Linked DNA regions of Homo sapiens: region 2 is linked to region 1. The links come from fine-mapping of genetic effects on gene expression. A gene starts in region 1. The other region holds a variant in brackets. All regions are shown on one strand. Distances are from middle to middle.

Region 1 (8,341 bases):
AATATTTTTGATGATCCCCTGGACTAGCTTAGCCTCATATATACACACCTTAGACTTCTCAGGTATGTGAGCCAAAATTTCCTTTTTGCTCAAAACTTAAATTGGACTTCAGTCATTTGCTTTTGAAAGAATTAAGACTGAAACTATTCTTCCATAGAGCAGATACAGGAAAAACATGCTCCAGGGTGACAATTGAGAGTAAAATGACACAATTTCAAAATGTATTAAACAGACAGCAGTCTCGGCTTTCTCCTAAAGGGAAAGTAAATCTATTAGGGAACCTGAAGATGAGAGAGATACAATTACTATGAGAAGACATATTAAAGCTTATTCTTTCTTTTTAAAGAAAAAGATTAATTGGAAATAAAAGATGATAGAAACAGATTCAAATTGGTCAAAAGACACTGAGGAATAATATTATTTTACTGCTTGATTAATTGACTCATTGATATTAGAAGTATTAATTAAAGCAAGTATACAGCTCTATTTATGGACAACAGTGTGCTAAAACATGTCAAGTATTATTTCATAAAATTCTCACAAGAAAGTCATGAAGATAGATAAAAATTGCCTCCATTTTGCAGACTGGAAAACTGAGTGTCATAGACATTAAAAAACTTGTCCAATGTCACAAACTAGAATATGGTACATTCTACCTATATAAGGTTATGGTTGAAATGTTTCAACAAGCAAAAGATAAAACAATTACACACATGGATCCCAAAACACTCATTCTGTTTACTTGAAAACATATATATATATTCACCATTGCAGTATATATATATATATATATATATATATATATATATATATATATATATATATATATATAAACAATTACCTAGGGATACAAATGATAAATATGTTTGAAAAAATGAAAATTAGAGTTAGAAACTACTGGTACAAAACAAAAAACTTAAAACAAGTTATTTTAATTTTTTAATAGTAAAAGGAATACATAAAACGACAAAAGTGAAAGTTTCATTGGTTGTTTCTCAGACAAGAGAAGAAATCTGCAGCTAGATTTGTAGGAAAAAGCTGGACCATATGAGGAGAAATCCAGGGGTTCAATTGATACATAATAAATATAGTGACAGGGTCTGAAATATTTAGGAGGTCCTTAAAAGATGAAATTGCTATAGCATCTTTATTCATAATTGCCAAAACTTGGAAGCAATCTAGATGACCTTCTGTAGGTGAGTGGATAAGTTGTGGTAAATAGAGACAACTGAATATTATTCAGTGCTAAAAACAGAGCTGTCAAGCCATGAAAATACATGGTGGAATCTTACATGCATATTACTAAGTGAAAGAAGCCAATCTGAAAAGGCTACATATTGCATGACCCCAACTCTATGACATTCTGGAGAAGGCAAAACTTGGAGACAGGAAAAACACCAATGGTTTCCAGGGGTTAGGAGCAAGAAAGAGAAGAATAGACAGAACACAGAGTATTTTTAGTGAGTAAAACTAGTATGATACCATAGTGGTGGATACATGTCGTTATACTTCTTTCAAAACCCCCAAAATGTACAAAACCAAGAGTGAACTCTGATGTAAACTATGGACTTTGGTGATGATGATGTGTCAATATAGGTTCACCAATTGTAACAAACATGCTACTGTGGTCCAGGGGTTGATCACAGGGAGTCGTGCCCTTGTGGGGGCCGGAGGTATATGAAAACTCTTTGTACTTCTCACTCAATTTTTCTGTGAACCTAAAACTGCTCCAAAAAATAAAGTCTATTAAAGCAATGAAATTGCTCAGGAGGGCTTGATAGTGAAATTTCTGGAGCTGACAGACTGAATTAGGGTCCTAGTGTGTAGAGACCTGACATTTAAATGAATAAGCAATACAGAAAATTTTACTTAAGATGCCAATATTGGCTTGGAGTATCCTAAAAATCTAGATGTCATTTGATTGCACATTAAATTGTATTATAATTACATACAGGATCTTCTGCATTTGAACACAATGCCATACCTTTAACAATGATCCTTTTGTTTGATATTTATGTTGGCATAAATTTTTAATATGAGTGAGGGAAAGAAGAAAATTGCTTGTTTTTCTGAGGACTGTATATGTTTATGTCATTGAAATGAAGGACAACACTTAAATCAAGAAAATCAAAAACAATCAGATTCACAAGCAGACTCAAAACAAAAGAAATAAGGGTTTTAAAAAATCCCCTTAGTTTACAATGGGGACAAACAACATGATAGCATTTTAGCATCTAATAATAGCCATTATTTATACAAGCATATTTAGACTGTTATCAGAGGGAAATAAATATGGCTGTAGTAACATTCAATTTGGATTTTCCATAGGGTAGACAGGGTTGAGGGTTCCCCTTTATTCAAAACATAAAAGAGTTAGTAAATTCCTTGGCAGCAGGGAACAAAAATCTCAGCTGCCATTTGCCTGCTGGTGACTGAAACCCATTGCCTGAGTAATTTCTTATCACTGTCTGATTGACAGACCACAGTTTGATGTATTTTGAAGAACTGAGGGAGACCAAGGGTCTGAGAAATCAAAGATGGCTTTTATGCTGGTTTTTTAATAACTCTAATTTAAAGCAATTGCATGAACTAAAAGCTTACAAATATTTTAGAAATGACTTTTAAATGTCTCTCGATAATATTCTACAGTTTTGAAAGTCACTACAAAACAACAAACAAGACAAATCTCATTTTGACTAGACAGCACTTGGTTTACATTATTTTTCTTTTGTGGTCTACATTATTTAATTGCAATTAAAACAAAAATTATAAATGTAAGCCTAATTACAACAATACAAAAAACTATACATGAATCCTTGGAACTTAAAGAGATAAATTTGTCTGGTCACTCTTTGGCCTGTAGTTTTTAGTTTATTCCCTCAGGCCTGACCAGAGTATGAAAAAGATCACAATAATCATTTTTTTAAAAAGTCAATTCTTACGTGCATGCTCTACCTCATTTGACTAGGACAACTTTACTCTTTCCAGATTCTTGGACCATTCAAATTCATAGGTGTCTTCTGCCTCTGGAATGACACTGTATGCAGTATCCCTTTTTATTTAAGCACCTCGCTGGTGCTTACCACATCTTACCACATCAGGGACTTGTGATGCCTCTCTAAATCTTATTCATGCTTCAAAATTCAGCTGAAGGCCTACCTCCTTCCTACCTACTCCAGTCCATAGTATGCACTTTTCATTCTCCACTCTTTATACCTTTTGGCACAAATCATTTGGCGCTCGGCACTTCATGAAGCACATCGTGTGCCTTTAGCGTGTTTCTCCTGTTTCTATAGGCAGTCTAAGAAAAACGCTAGGTGGTAAGAGCACGCGGTGTCACTGTCCGTGGTCCTGAAACATGGTTGCGTGCTAAGATTCTTCTTAAGCCAATATCCGGTGACTCCTGTTCACTTTTTCCCAGGAATTTTTAAATTGGTAAAGTGGTGGGGACAAGAAAAAAGAAAGCCAAAAAGATATTGGGAGAGAAAGATAGAGGCATGGACAGAGGTATCCCTCTCCAGTCATTCCCTAGAGAGAATTAAAAATAGTAGGATTTTATGTAATTTTCAAACAATTGCAGACGCGAACTTGGAAGCAAAAGGGGGGAGGGAAAAATATCAATGGCATAGCCATTGATGAAGGAGAATTTAAAAAATGCATGCACTAAGTGACATAAAGCCATCCAAGTGTCGGCATGAACACACGCACTGATGCTAGTGGACTAGGATACCAAACAGGTAGCATGTTGTGAACTTAGCGTCGGTTGTGTCATACTAAACTTCCACAGATTTTCTTTTTGTTTCTCTCTCTTGATTTAAAACAAAACAAAATTGTCATTTGGCACTGTGGCAGAACAAAGATGACTGTAACTTATATTTCTCATCTGATGTAGCTGTGTACCTTTTTCACTGTTAGCACCTCTGTAACAGTTACATTCCAGCAACATCGAGTCCCAGCTGCCGATGGCTGGCGGCGCAAACACTCCCTGCCCTAGCTATGTAAGTTCCCCAACTACAGTATAACCTCTCAGAGGACGAACATTTTTGGATATCTCAAAATGCCTAAGTACAGTGTCTGGTACAAACTAGGAGCCAAGTAATATCCACTGAATCAAGAAAAGAATCACAATGCCTTCCACGGAGAAAATATTCAACAAAGGCTTGTTAAATGAGCAAATATTCCAGTTGTTTTAACAATTCCATCCTCTTCTAGGTTCTTTTAAAGTCCAAATCTCCCTTCCTCTCCCCTCGGGACTCCACATCCCAACAAACCTCCCTTCCGCGGCAGTCACTACCTTTGCAGCACTCTGGCCCTGCCCTCCTCCTGCCACGTGTCGGACCCCTGCTGGGCTGGCCCTCCTTTCCTACTCTGCGACACCCCTATCCCCCCCGCCCCTATCCTGCCCGCTCCCGCACCCGGTCCCTCTCCCCGGGCCTCGCGACTCCGGCGATTCAGCTCCGGGTCCCCGCCCGCAGGGTAACGCGGTTGTCATGGACACGGCACCTGCGCCCTACGGCGGTGCCCCTTCGCCGCCGTCCCCTCCCCCCACCTGCGGCGCCGAGCCTGCCGCGCCTCCAGAGCTCCGCCCTACCCCGCCCCGCCCTTTCGGGCGCTCCCCAGGCCGCGCGCGCCCGCGGCCCCCCACCCAGCCACCCCTCGATGCCCGGTGCCTTTCCAGGCGCCGCGGAGCCACGGGGACCGCGGGGGCGCGCGAGCGAGCAAGCGGCCGCGCATGCGCACTGGCTGCCTCCCCTAGCGGCGATCCGGGCCGCTGCCGCTCGCGCTTGGGCAGGACGCGGGGCGGGCGGGGGGAGGGGGGAGCGGCTTCGCTTCCAGCCCCGAGTGAGGCGGAGACCCAGGCGGGCGGGCAGAGCAGGCGGCACCGCACCTCGGCCAGAGGCGGCTGCAGCAGCTGCTGCCCTTGTCCCTGCCGCCGCCTCTCCAGTCCCTTCTGTGATTACCACTCCAGCTGCTGGGAACGGGCGAGAAAGAGGAGGAGGCGAGAAACTCCCACCGACCCACAGAGGTGAGTCCCGGGCAGAGCATCCTCCATCCCTGCCTGCCTCCCTCCCTCCCCACCTCCCTCCCATCCTCTCCATCCTCCCCCCTCCCCGCTCCCCAACCCTCCCTCCCTCATCCTTCCCAACATCCCTCTCTCCTCTCCCCTCCTTTCTCCCTTCCAGCCTTTCTTTCATCCCTTTCTTCCTCTCTCCCAGCCCCACTTCCTTCCCACCCTTTCTTTCTTCCCCGTCTTCCTTGCAGCCACTCGCCCTAGAGCACAGCTCTGCATCCCTTTCCTCTTGTCTCCATCTCTTCTTCCCCCCTTTCTTACCTCTTCCCCGGTGGGAGGGTGGGAGCATCCCTTGCCTGCTACAACTGTCCGGATTCAGGGGTTCCAGAAAATTGGGTGCATATACTGAGAGACACACTCTTAAACAGCGGGTGCCCTGCAGATTCCTAAATTTTTAGGATGAAGGGTCAAGTTGGGTAGAGTACTGGGAACTGGAGGGAGAAGAGGATCGAAGAAGAATCTGTGGATTTGTGCTATATTAGGGTGGGGGTGGGGAGGGTTGTCACTTGGACATGCTGCCAACAGCCCCCATACCCCTCTTCAGCAGTTTCTTTTTTTCTTCTGGGAATTACATATTTCCAGTGTGTGTCTCACCAATTTAAAATCCAGCCTTCCCTGCTTTGATTGTCTCCGTGAGAAACCACAACGAAAAAGGAGAAGAGAGGAAAGGAACAAGAGAGAAAAAGGGGAGGGGAGAGGAAGGGAGGTGGCAGTGGAAGCTTGTGTTCTTTTCCCCTAGGCCTCTTTGGTTTGACATTTTCAAACCACCCGCCTCATATTTGGCTTGGAATTGAACCCGTGTGTCCTTGGTCCTGTCACTACCTACTTCAAAGGCAGAAACTCTCTAAACTTTAATGCCTGTGCACCACAGCATTATTTATGGAATGTTTTGCTCAGCATACAAAATACCAAGATAGAAAGGTTTGGGAAAATAGGGAGCAGAAGGGTGGAAGAGAGGTACTTTTGTTCATCATGGGTTAACTTCTCAAGTAGGATAATGGTTAGACAGTTTTGGAGAAATGAGGTTATACTCCACAGGCTTGTAAATATACCATTTAGATGGCATTAGCTGCATTAGAGCCTTTAACAGACACCCTTACCCATTTTCACCCACCTCGTAGGACCCCTGAAGATGTTTAAAGAGAAACATGCTGTGTGATTCTGTTTGTGGCTTACACCAATGGAAAAGTTGAATTAGCTTCGGAACCATTGTTAATAATTTAAAATTGCTGTTGGTTTTACATCACTTATTTTCACAGAATGCTATAATTTACCTTGCTCTCTTCAGCTTGCATTCTAACCCCTTACATTATACATGTTATTGGCAATTTGACAATTCTTTCTGTTAGCATTGCTGCTGTAAAGTTTATTTTTACATGGCGGGACAGCCATGCCTCAGAATGTTTAGCATATTTATCATCTCAGAAGGGTCCAACAGTGTAAGTATAAATCAAAAATGGATATTTTGAAGCCTATATTTTGTTCTATTTATATTCTCCTAAAACAACAGACCAAAAAACCTTAATATCTTTAGAATAGCTGTGTTTTGTGTTTAAGGAGTATGTGTGAGGGACCAAAATTAATGGTGGATTCTTTGAAGTTGCCAGTAAGACACTATGCTGTGGAACACATTATTGATTTTTTTCTTTTCATTTAAATTATTATATGACAGTAGTGCAATATGCAGTTTTGCATTTTATGGGAGTGTAAAGCAGGAGTTGAGATGAAGAGAATTGCCTTCCTAAGTGATTGAGTGCTGATTTGATGAAGAGCTGATAGTTAATCACCTGAGTCAGTGCTGGGGAAGTGTGTAATATTAGGAGTGATGGACTCCTTCAACTCCCCATGGTAGGAATGCAATTCCATTAATGGCTTGGCTGACTCTTCAGCCATGTAACTAAAGCTTGGTTGAATTACCAGTGTTACCAACATCCTGATGCAGATTGCAGTCAACCCTGTGTGTATTGGAATGCTTGCATTACTTAATAGTGAACTTGTAGATAGGAGTGTTTTCCTTGTTGGTGTTCCTTTCCCTAGAATACCGTGAAACAAGTGAAAGACTGTCATGTTAATTATACATGAGCATAATAAGTTAGTTTTGTCCAAATTTCTTTCAAAAGACTTTTCCCCTGCCAGTATGTCTGCTGTTCTTTGTGGGGCTTCAGAGTTGTGAATGTGGGGAGGTGGCAGCCCCTCTATGGGCTTTGCTCTTTCTTTGTTGCAGTTTTTCTGCAGAGTGGTGTGGGTGTATGCCCCAGTTTTTGATACTGTGCTTAGTATAGAAACACAGGTACTTTTCACTTGCCTCCTTTGTAAACATTAGTCCACTGAGTGGAAACAAAACATACCAAGTTATTAAAGAACTAGCAAACAAAGTAACATTTTTTTACAGCAAAATTTTAAGAGAGATGAGTACAATTAATAAAATGTGCATTTTAGAAGAGCAACTAGTGTCTTTGAAAAGCAGCTTGCCTCCTTGACTATAATCCAGTTTGCAGATAAAGACTGACTTCCTCTGAAGAATTTCATTTCTAGAGGCTTCTGTCTTTAGTTGACTGGACCTTTAAAAATACTTGATACAATAAAGAGCCAATAGAAGATCTTATGGACCCCTGTAAAATGTATTCCGGATATATTCTCTGTGTCTCCCTCCCTCAGAGCTCTTAACACCTGCCTAACCCTAGGCTGAGTGGTGTGAGGCATTCCAAGAAAGTAGAAAGAAGTAAAAGACACTCTCTTTGACCTCAGCTTACAGTCTAGTTGAGGAGAACAGGCATTTGCATGAGGTCCTATTTCACAGTGGCAAGTAACAAGATCTTTGGAGACAGCTTTAGATGTGAGTACAGGCTCTAGTTCTTAGGAGGATCATGTCCTTGTGTACAATTTAAATCTGTTTTTTCATCTATAAAATGAAAATTGTAAGGGACTCTGATTCATGGGCTTGCTTTAAAGGTTAAATGTGTTTAGCTCAGTACTTGGTACAAACAAAACATGTATTAAGTAAACATTATTATAATTAGGAGAAATCACTTAAACACATTCCAAGACCATATATGATTATGTACTAGAAAGACAGAAGCGCAAGTAAGTACTAGAGGAATTGGGAAGAAGACGGGTGTCTGTGTAGCTGGGAAAATATTATATTTGGTAGTAGCACTGGAGCTTGGACAGAGACTCCTGGGAATGATTTCATGCAGGGTGGGCTGGAACAAAAGCAGAGAGGGAGGAAAAGGCATGGTGTGTTTGAAGAACATTAGAGAGACTATTTAC
Region 2 (8,341 bases), 300 kb before region 1:
AAAATGAAGTACTGTAGCTTTATCTCTTCAATAGCTTTATTTTCTCCCCACAAACACTAGAGGCTCTGCTTCCACTTCCTGTCTACCTGAAACTTCCCAAATATAAAATGAAAACTGGAATTCAAAACTGAGAGCATATAAATCAATTTCTAGGTCTTACATTTATTTCAGATACTCTTCAAATTTGAGCTTCTTGAGGAGGAATCCATGATTTTAAGTGGATGTTTGTTTAAATCTTACCTTTCACACTCTCCCTTCTCATTTTAGTAAAGATAACCATTTATTTCCCCACCTGTAATTGTACTCTGGGTATGAAAGTCTCCGGCACACTGTACAACTGAGAGCTGAAAAACACAGACTATCTTTAAGAAGGGGTTTTTAGAGTATTATTCCAAGACAACAAGGGAAACTTTTCATGCGCGTCCGTGAGAAGAGACCACCAAACAGGCTTTGTGTGAGCAGTAAAGCTGTTTATTTCACCTGGGTGCAGGCGGGCTGAGTCTGAAAAGAGAGTCAGTGAAGGGAGATAGGGGTGGGGCCTTTTTATAAGATTTGGGTAGGTAAAGGAAAATTACAGTCAAAGGGGGGTTGTTCTCTGGCGGGCAGGAGTGGAGGTCACAAGATGCTCAGTAGGGGAGCTTTTGAGTCAGGATGAGCCAGGAGAAGGAATTTCAGAAGATAATGTCATCAGTTAAGGCAGGAACAGGCCATTTTCATTTCTTTTGTGGTGGAATGTCATCAGTTAAGGCAGGAACCAGTCATCTGGATGTGTACGTGCAGGTCACATGGGATATGATGGCTTAGCTTGGGCTCAGAGGCATGACATTCCTGTCTTCTTATATTAATAAGAAAAATAAAATGAAATAGTGGTTAAGTGTTGGGATGGCAACAATTTTGGGGGATGGTATGGAGAGATAGTGGGCGATGTTTCTCAGGGCTGCTTCGAGCGGGATTAGGGGCGGCGCGGGAACCTAGAGTGGGAGAGATTAAACTGAAGGAAGATTTTGTGGTAAGGGGTGATATTGTGGGACTGTTAGAAGAAACATTTGTCATTTAGAATTATTGATGATGGCCTGGATATGGTTTTGTATGAATTGAAAAACTAAATGGATTAAAGGTCTAAGAATTGGGAGGACCCAGAACATCTGATTAGAGAGTGCCTAAGGAGGTTCAGCATAGCCCTGCCAGCAAAGATTATTTATTTACTTTAAGAGTTAAGAGTGGCAGTTTGGGGATAGCACCAGGAGATATCAGCTGTGATGACTTGGAGAAACAGTGTAAACCGGCAGTGTAAACAAGAGCAGGGCATGTATGAGTAGTTGAGAACGGTGAATAGGAGTATGACTAGACAGAAGATAGTAGGGATGACAAGTTTTTTGGGGCACAGTCCAAGTTGGTCTGGTGTCTGGAATGACACTGAGGCCTAATAAAAAGGAGCGTCTATACAGGAGCTCAAATGGGCTGTACCCTGTAGCATTCTGAGGACAGGCCTGAATTCTGAGAAAAGAAAGAGGTAAAAGTATTGTCCAGTCCTTTTTAAGTTGGTGGCTGAGCTTGGTGAGGTGTGTTTTTAAAAGACCAATAGTACATTCTACCTTTCCTGAAGACTGAGGACTGTAAGGGATATAAAGGTTTCACTGAATACTAAGAGCCCGAAAAACTGCTTGGCTGATTTGACTAATGAAGGCCGGTCCACTATCGGACTGCGTAGAGGTGGGAAGGCCAAACCGAGTAATTATGTCTGACAGAAGGGAAGAAATGACCGCGGTGGCCTCTCAGACCCTGTAGGAAAGGCCTCTACCTATCCAGTGAAAGTGTCTACCTAGACTAAGAGGTATTTTAGTTTTCTGACTCGGGGCATGTGAGTAAAGCTAATTTGCCAGTCCTGGGCAGGGGCAAATCCTTGAGCTTGATGTGTGGGAAAGGGAGTGGGCCTGAATAATCCCTGAGGAGTAGTAGAATAGCAGATGGAACACTGAGAAGTGATTTCCTTGAGGATAGATTTCCATGATGCAAAGGAAATGAGAGGTTCTAAGAGATGGGCTAGTGGCTTGTAACCTACATGGAAGAAGTTAGGAAATGACGACAGAATAGAATGGGCCTGTGAGGCTGGAAGGAGATATTTCCCTTGGTCTAAGAACCATTTGCCTTGTGTGGGAAGAGATTGATAGGTGGAAGTTTCAGCAGGGGAGTAGGTGGGAGTGGCCAGATGAGAAGGAGAAAAACTGAAAGTGAGGGATATAAGTTGGAATGCTAGCTGCTTTTTTAGCTATCTTATCAGCATAAGCATTGTCCTGAGCGATGGGATCTGATGATGCCCTTCGACGGCCTTTGCAGTGAATGACTCCAGCTTCCTTTGGAAGTAAAGCAGCTTTGAGAAGTGTTTTTATTAAAGAGGCATTAATGATAGAGGACCCTTGTGTAGTGAGGAAACCTCTTGCATGGTGGTGCAGGATATGGAAGGCATATTTAGAGTCAGTATAAATATTGACGTTTAGTCCTTTTGCAAGAGTGAGGGCTTGAGTTAAGGCAACTAGTTCGGCTTGCTGAGAGGTAGTGGAGGAGAGCAGAGCAGTAGCCTTAATGATAGATGTGGAAGATACTATAGCATAGCCTGCCTTTGCTGGTGAGTGGCGATTAGGCCTGGTGGAACCGCCATCAATAAACTAAATGTGATCAGAGTGAGGAACAGGAAATAAGGAAACATGGGGAAATTGGGTGAATGTCAGGTGGATCAGACAGATATAGTCATGAGGGTCAGCTGTGGTATCCAGAATAATGTGGGAGGCTGGATTGAAGTCCGGGCAAGGAACAATGGTAATTGTGGGAAACTCAACAAAGAGTGAGTATAGCTGAAGGAGCCAGGAAGCAGAAAGTATATGCGTCAGGTATGAGGAAGAAAACAGATTTTGGAAGTTATGAGAACTGTAGAGAGTGAGTTGAGCATAGTTTGTGATTTTTAGGGCCTCTAAAAGTATTAAAGCAGCGGCAGCCGCTGCACGCAGACATGAGGGCTAGGCTAAAACAGTAAGGTCAAGTTGTTTGGACAGAAACACTACAGGGTGGGGTCCTGGCTCTTGTGTAAGAATTCTGACCGCACTAACTATGCCTAGGAAGGAAAGGAGTTGTTGTTTTGTAGAAGGGATTGAGGTTTGGGAGATTAGTCGGACACAATCAGCAGGGAGAGCACATGTGTTTTTACGAGAATTATGCCAAGATAGGTAACAGATGAGGAAGAAATTTAGGCTTGACTGAAGTAATGGGGGCTGTCTGTGAAGCTTTGCAGCAGTATAGCCCAGGTAATTTGCTGAGCCTGATGGGTGTCAGGGTCAGTCCAAGTGAAAGCGAAGAGAGGCTGGGATGAAGGGTGCAAAGAAATAGTAAAGAAAGCATGTTTGAGATCTAGAACAGAATAATGGATTGTGGAGGGAGGTATTGAGGATATGAGAGTATAAACAATTTGGTTGATAAGGGGCAGATCCTGAACTAACCTGTAAGGCTCGTCTGGTTCTAGGACAGGTAAAATGGGGAAATTGTAAGGAAAGTTTATAGGCTTTAAAAGGCCATGCTATAACAGGCGAGTGATAACAGGCTTTAATCCTTTTAAAGCGTGCTATGGGATGGGATATTGGCATTGAGCGGGGTAAGGGTGATTAGGTTTTAATGGGATGGTAATGGGCCTGTGATCAGTTGCCAGGGAAGGAGTAGAGATGTCCTATGCTTGTGGGTAAGGTGGGGGGATACGAGAGGAAGACGCAAAGGAGGCTTTGGGTTGGGGAAAAGGGCGGCAGTGAGATG[C/T]GGCTGTAGTCCAAGAATAGTCAGGGAAGCAGATAATTTGGTTAAAATATCTCGGCCTAATAAGGGAACTGGGCAGGTGGGGATAAGTAAAAAAGAGTGCATAAAAGTATTGTCTAAGTTGGCACCAGAGTTGGGGAGTTTTAAGAGGTTTAGAAGCCTGGCCGTCAATACCCACAACAGTTCTGGAGGCAAGGGAAACAGGCCCTTGAAAAGAAGGTAATGTGGAGTGGGTAGCCTCCGTATTGATTAAGAAGGGGACGGACTTACCTTCCACTGTGAGAGTCACCTGAAGCTCGGCGTCCGTGATGGTCTAGGGGGCTTCTGAGGCGATCGGGCAGCGTCAGTCTTCAGCTGCTAAGCTGAGAAGATCTGGGAAGGAGTCAGTCAGAGCGCCTTGGGCCAGAGTTCCAGGGGCTCTGGGAGTGGCTGCCAGGTGAGTTGAACAGTCCGATTTTCAGTGGGGTCCTGCACAGATGGGACGTGGCTTAGGAGGAATCTTGGGCTGTGGGCATTCCTTGGCCTGGTTGCCAGATTTCTGGCACTTGTAGCAAGCTCCTGGGAGAGGCGGGCCTGGAGGAACGCCTGGCCACTGCGGTTCAGGCGTTTGGAAGTTCTTGTGTGCTGGAGATGTGGCTGGGGTTTGTCTCACAGTGGAGGCAAAGAATTGCAACTGAGAAATATGTTGCTATTTGGCTGCCTCTAGTCTATTATTGTACACCTCGAAGGTGAGGTTAATTAAGTCCTGTTGTGGGGTTTGAGGGCTGGAATTTAATTTTTGGAGTTTTATTTAATGTCAGGAGCAGATTGGGTAATAAAACGTATTTTGAGAATAAGACGACCTTTTGACCTTTTAGGGTCTAGGGCTGTAAAGTGTCTCAGGGTTGCTGTCAAACGAGTCATGTACTGGGCTGGGTTTTTATATTTGATGAAAAAGAGCCTAAACGCTCTCTGATTTGGGATTAAAAAAAGGAGCATTAACCTTGACTATGCCTTTAGCTCTAGCCACCTTTTTAAGAGGAAATTGCTGGGCAGGTGGGGGAGGGCTAGTCACAGAACGAAACTGTAAGCCAGACCGGGTGTGAGGAGGGGAGGTGATAAAAGGATTATAGGGTGGAGGAGCAGAGGCTGAGGAAGAATTATGACCTAGCTCGGCCTTGCGAGGAAGGGAGAGGTCAGATGGGTCAGTAGAAAAGGAAGATTAGAAAGACTCAGTGACGCTTGGGGTTGGGACTGAGGGGACATGTGGGAGGGAAAGAAGGAAGATTTGGGACGAGTTGCATTGGGAACAGAGACCAGGGAGGGACTGATGTGTAAAAGAATGCCTGGACGTCAGGCACCTCGGACCATTTGCCTATTTTACGACAAGAATTATTTAGATCTTGTAGGATGGAAAAAATGAAAGTGCCATTTTCTGGCTATTTGGAACGGCTGTCAAGTTTGTATTGGGGTCAAGCGGCATTGTAGAAGAAAATAAGGCATTTAGGTTTTAGGTCAGGTGTGAGTTGAAGAGGTTTTAGGTTTTTAAGAACACAGGCTAAGGGAGAAGAAGGAGGAATGGAGGGTGGAAGGTTGCCCATAATGAAGGAGGCAAGCCTAGAGAAAAGAGAGAGACACGGAGGGAAGGGGTTTGGGGGTTCTTACCCTCCAGAAAAGCAGGAAAGTGGTCGGGGTGCGGAAATAAAGGGTTGGGGTGCAGAGATAAGAGGTCGGAGCATGGAAATAAGGGATCAGGGCACAGAGATAAGAGGTTGGGGCATGGAAATAAGGGATCGGGGCACAGAGATAAGAGGTTGGGGTGCAGAAATAAGGGATTGGGGCACAGAGATAAGGGGTCGAGTCATGGAAATAAGGGATCAGGGGGTTCTTGTCCCCAGAAAAGCAGAGAAGGGGTAGAGACATGCAGAGAAGGGGTTGGGGGGTTCTTGCTCCCTAGAAAAGCGGTACTTGTGGCTAAGGGTGAAGGAGAAGGGGTTGGGGGGTTCTTGCCCCCTAGAAAAGCGGTACTTGCAGCTAAGGGTGAAGAAGGGGTTGGGGGGTTCTTGCCCCCAGAAAAGCAGAGAAGGGGTAGAGACATGGAGAGAAGGGGTTGGGGGGTTCATGCCCCCCAGAACTGCAGTACTTGCCACTAAGGGTGAAGGACCAAGGCAGGCATCCCCACGTGGTCAGACACCTCTGAAACGTGGGTAAATAATCAGAGAGGCGTCCCTGCAATGATTAAACACCAAGGGAAGGCTGCCTTCCTGAGTCCATGACTGGTGCCTGAGTTTTGGGTCCATGGATAAAACGTGTCTCCTTTGTCTCTACCAGAAAATGAAAGGAATTGAAATTAAGAGAAGGGAGAGATTGAAGGGTGGCGCCAATATTGAAAGGAGATAGTGGTTGAGGGATAGTGAGAGAGGTTGGAGAAGAGAGTAAGAAAAGGACGCTTACCTGATTTAAAATTGGTGAGATGTTCCTTGGGCTGGTGGGTCTGAGGCCCTGAGATCGTAAGTGGATCTTTTTCACGGAGCAAAGAGCAGGAGGACAGGGGATTGATCCCCCAAGGGAGGTCCCCCGATCCGAGTCACGGCACCAAATTTCATGTGAGTCCGTGTGAAGAGACCACCAAACAGGCTTTGTGTGAGCAATAAAGCTGTTTATTTCACCTGGGTGCAGGGGGGCTGAGTCTGAAAAGAGAGTCAGTGAAGGGAGATAGAGGTGGGGCCGTTTTATAAGATTTGGGTAGGTAAAGGAAAATTACAGTCAAAGGGGGGTTCTCTGGCGGGCAGGAGTGGGGGCCACAAGGTGCTCAGTAGGGGAGCTTTTGAGCCAGGATGAGCCAGGAGAAGGAATTTCACAAGGAGTTAAGGCAGGAACAGGCCATTTTCATTTCTTTTGTAGTGGAATGTCATCAGTTAAGGCAGGAACCAGTCATCTGGATGTGTACGTGCAGGTCACAGGGAATATGATGGCTTAGCTTGGGCTCAGAGGCCTGACAAAAGTAAAACAAGGATTCTAGAGGAAATCAAAGCCTATGACACCTACAGCTACACAAATTGAAAATATAGCCTGACTTAGCCAGATAAACACAAAACCTCATTCTAACATCCTATCTACCCAATTCCTATTTTCTCTCTCCCAGGTCTAGACACTAAACTTCTTGAGGGCAAACATTGTTGTTTACTTCTTTAACTAGCTTGTGACACCACATAGCAGGTACGGAGCACATGCTTAAAATATTTGATGAAAGGAGGAAAAAGGAGGTTGTTAATTGAATGAACATCTACATAATAAAATAAAAACCTATTTCTTCCATGATTCAGGCAATTCACTTAAAGTGTTGCAATCCCACAAAAGCCTCCCATGCTTCCTCCATTTTAGAAATAAAAAACTTGAAGCTTACAGAACATCAGGTATAAGCCTAGAAATTGGTAAGGCTCTGATCCCAGCCAAGCCCACCTCTCCCACAGAGCAGGCTGCCTGCTGCATCTAGGGCTTCCATCACCCTGCCCAAAGGCAGGAAGTGGAGAGACAGAAGCACAGGGGTCCAGTAGAGTCTGAGCTTCCTTTCCTAAGCCAGGCACCAGAATCTTCATGAACTTTGTGTGTGTGTGTGTGTGTGTGTGTGTGTGTGTGTGTGTATTTTTTTTTTTTTTAGAGACAGGATCTTGCTACATTGCCCAGGCTGGTCGTGAACTCCTGGCCTCAAGCAGTCCTCCTGCCTCAGCCTCCCAAAGAGCTGGGATTATAGGCGTGAGCCACTGCACACAGCTTCCTTCATTTCTGTAAGTGTCAGTGAAAAAAGAATGTTTGTGAGTTAAGGAGTAGCAGTAGGGACTCGGAAGAGACTCTCATTTAGGACAGTTTTGACAATATAAGTGTTGCCAGTTTGCTTCCTAATGTTTGCATGGAGAATGGAACACTGGGTTCAGGTATTAAACTACTGTAGCACTATAGGGAGGATCAGAGACCACCATCGCAGGCCTGAGCAACATGGTACAAATCACGGATCTTGGAAACTGCGTTGGTGATAATAATTATGCATAATTATGAGTGTATTCTGCTTTAAAGTTTTTCAAAAAGTGAATTACCAGAATCTTTCAGACATTGTGTAACTTTTTGCTAAAGTTCAAAAACTTATACTGTTTTTATGGCAATTTTTGATTGATACTTGTTTTCTAATCTTGGGAGAAAAATGGAAAATAAAGGAAAGTTCTAAAAGGAAAATAAAATCCTCCATAATTTTACCACTCATAGTTAATCTCTGGTAATATTATGATGTCTTTCTTTCTATGCAAGGGTGTGTGTATGTATGTATAGTACAAAATTGCCACATTTTGAATGATATATTTCATATTTGTATTTATACATATGTAAACGCCTTTACTTCCTCCTATTTTTTCCCTAAAATTGTACCATGAGCATCCTTCACATTCTAAGAAAACATTATTCTTAATGGCTATGTAATATTTCATTATATCATTTATATCACAATTTAGATGACCAATATTCTGTTGCTGAACATTTAAATGTTTCCATTTGTTCAGTGTTATAAATTATAGAA

Alleles and levels. Positions count from the first base shown, and alleles are read on the strand shown. Sizes are in standard deviations (SD) of each study's normalised expression.
As copies of C replace T in region 2, the expression in pancreas of the gene that starts at base 4,870 in region 1 goes down (large effect, 0.80 SD a copy in GTEx).

Evidence for each region.
Region 2: its variant is fine-mapped to the expression of CTNNA2 in pancreas (GTEx, PIP above 0.99).

The regions. Positions count from the first base shown.
Region 1 is chr2:79,508,182-79,516,522 of GRCh38, forward strand. It overlaps CTNNA2 (catenin alpha 2), which reads left to right and starts at 4,870. Exons shown (of 19, transcript NM_001282597.3): 1 at 4,870-5,026.
Region 2 is chr2:79,210,933-79,219,273 of GRCh38, forward strand. It overlaps a transcript of CTNNA2 not described here. Among named protein-coding and RNA genes, the nearest start is that of REG3A, 55 kb to the left of the region's middle. The variant C/T (reference allele first, on the strand shown) is at 3,799.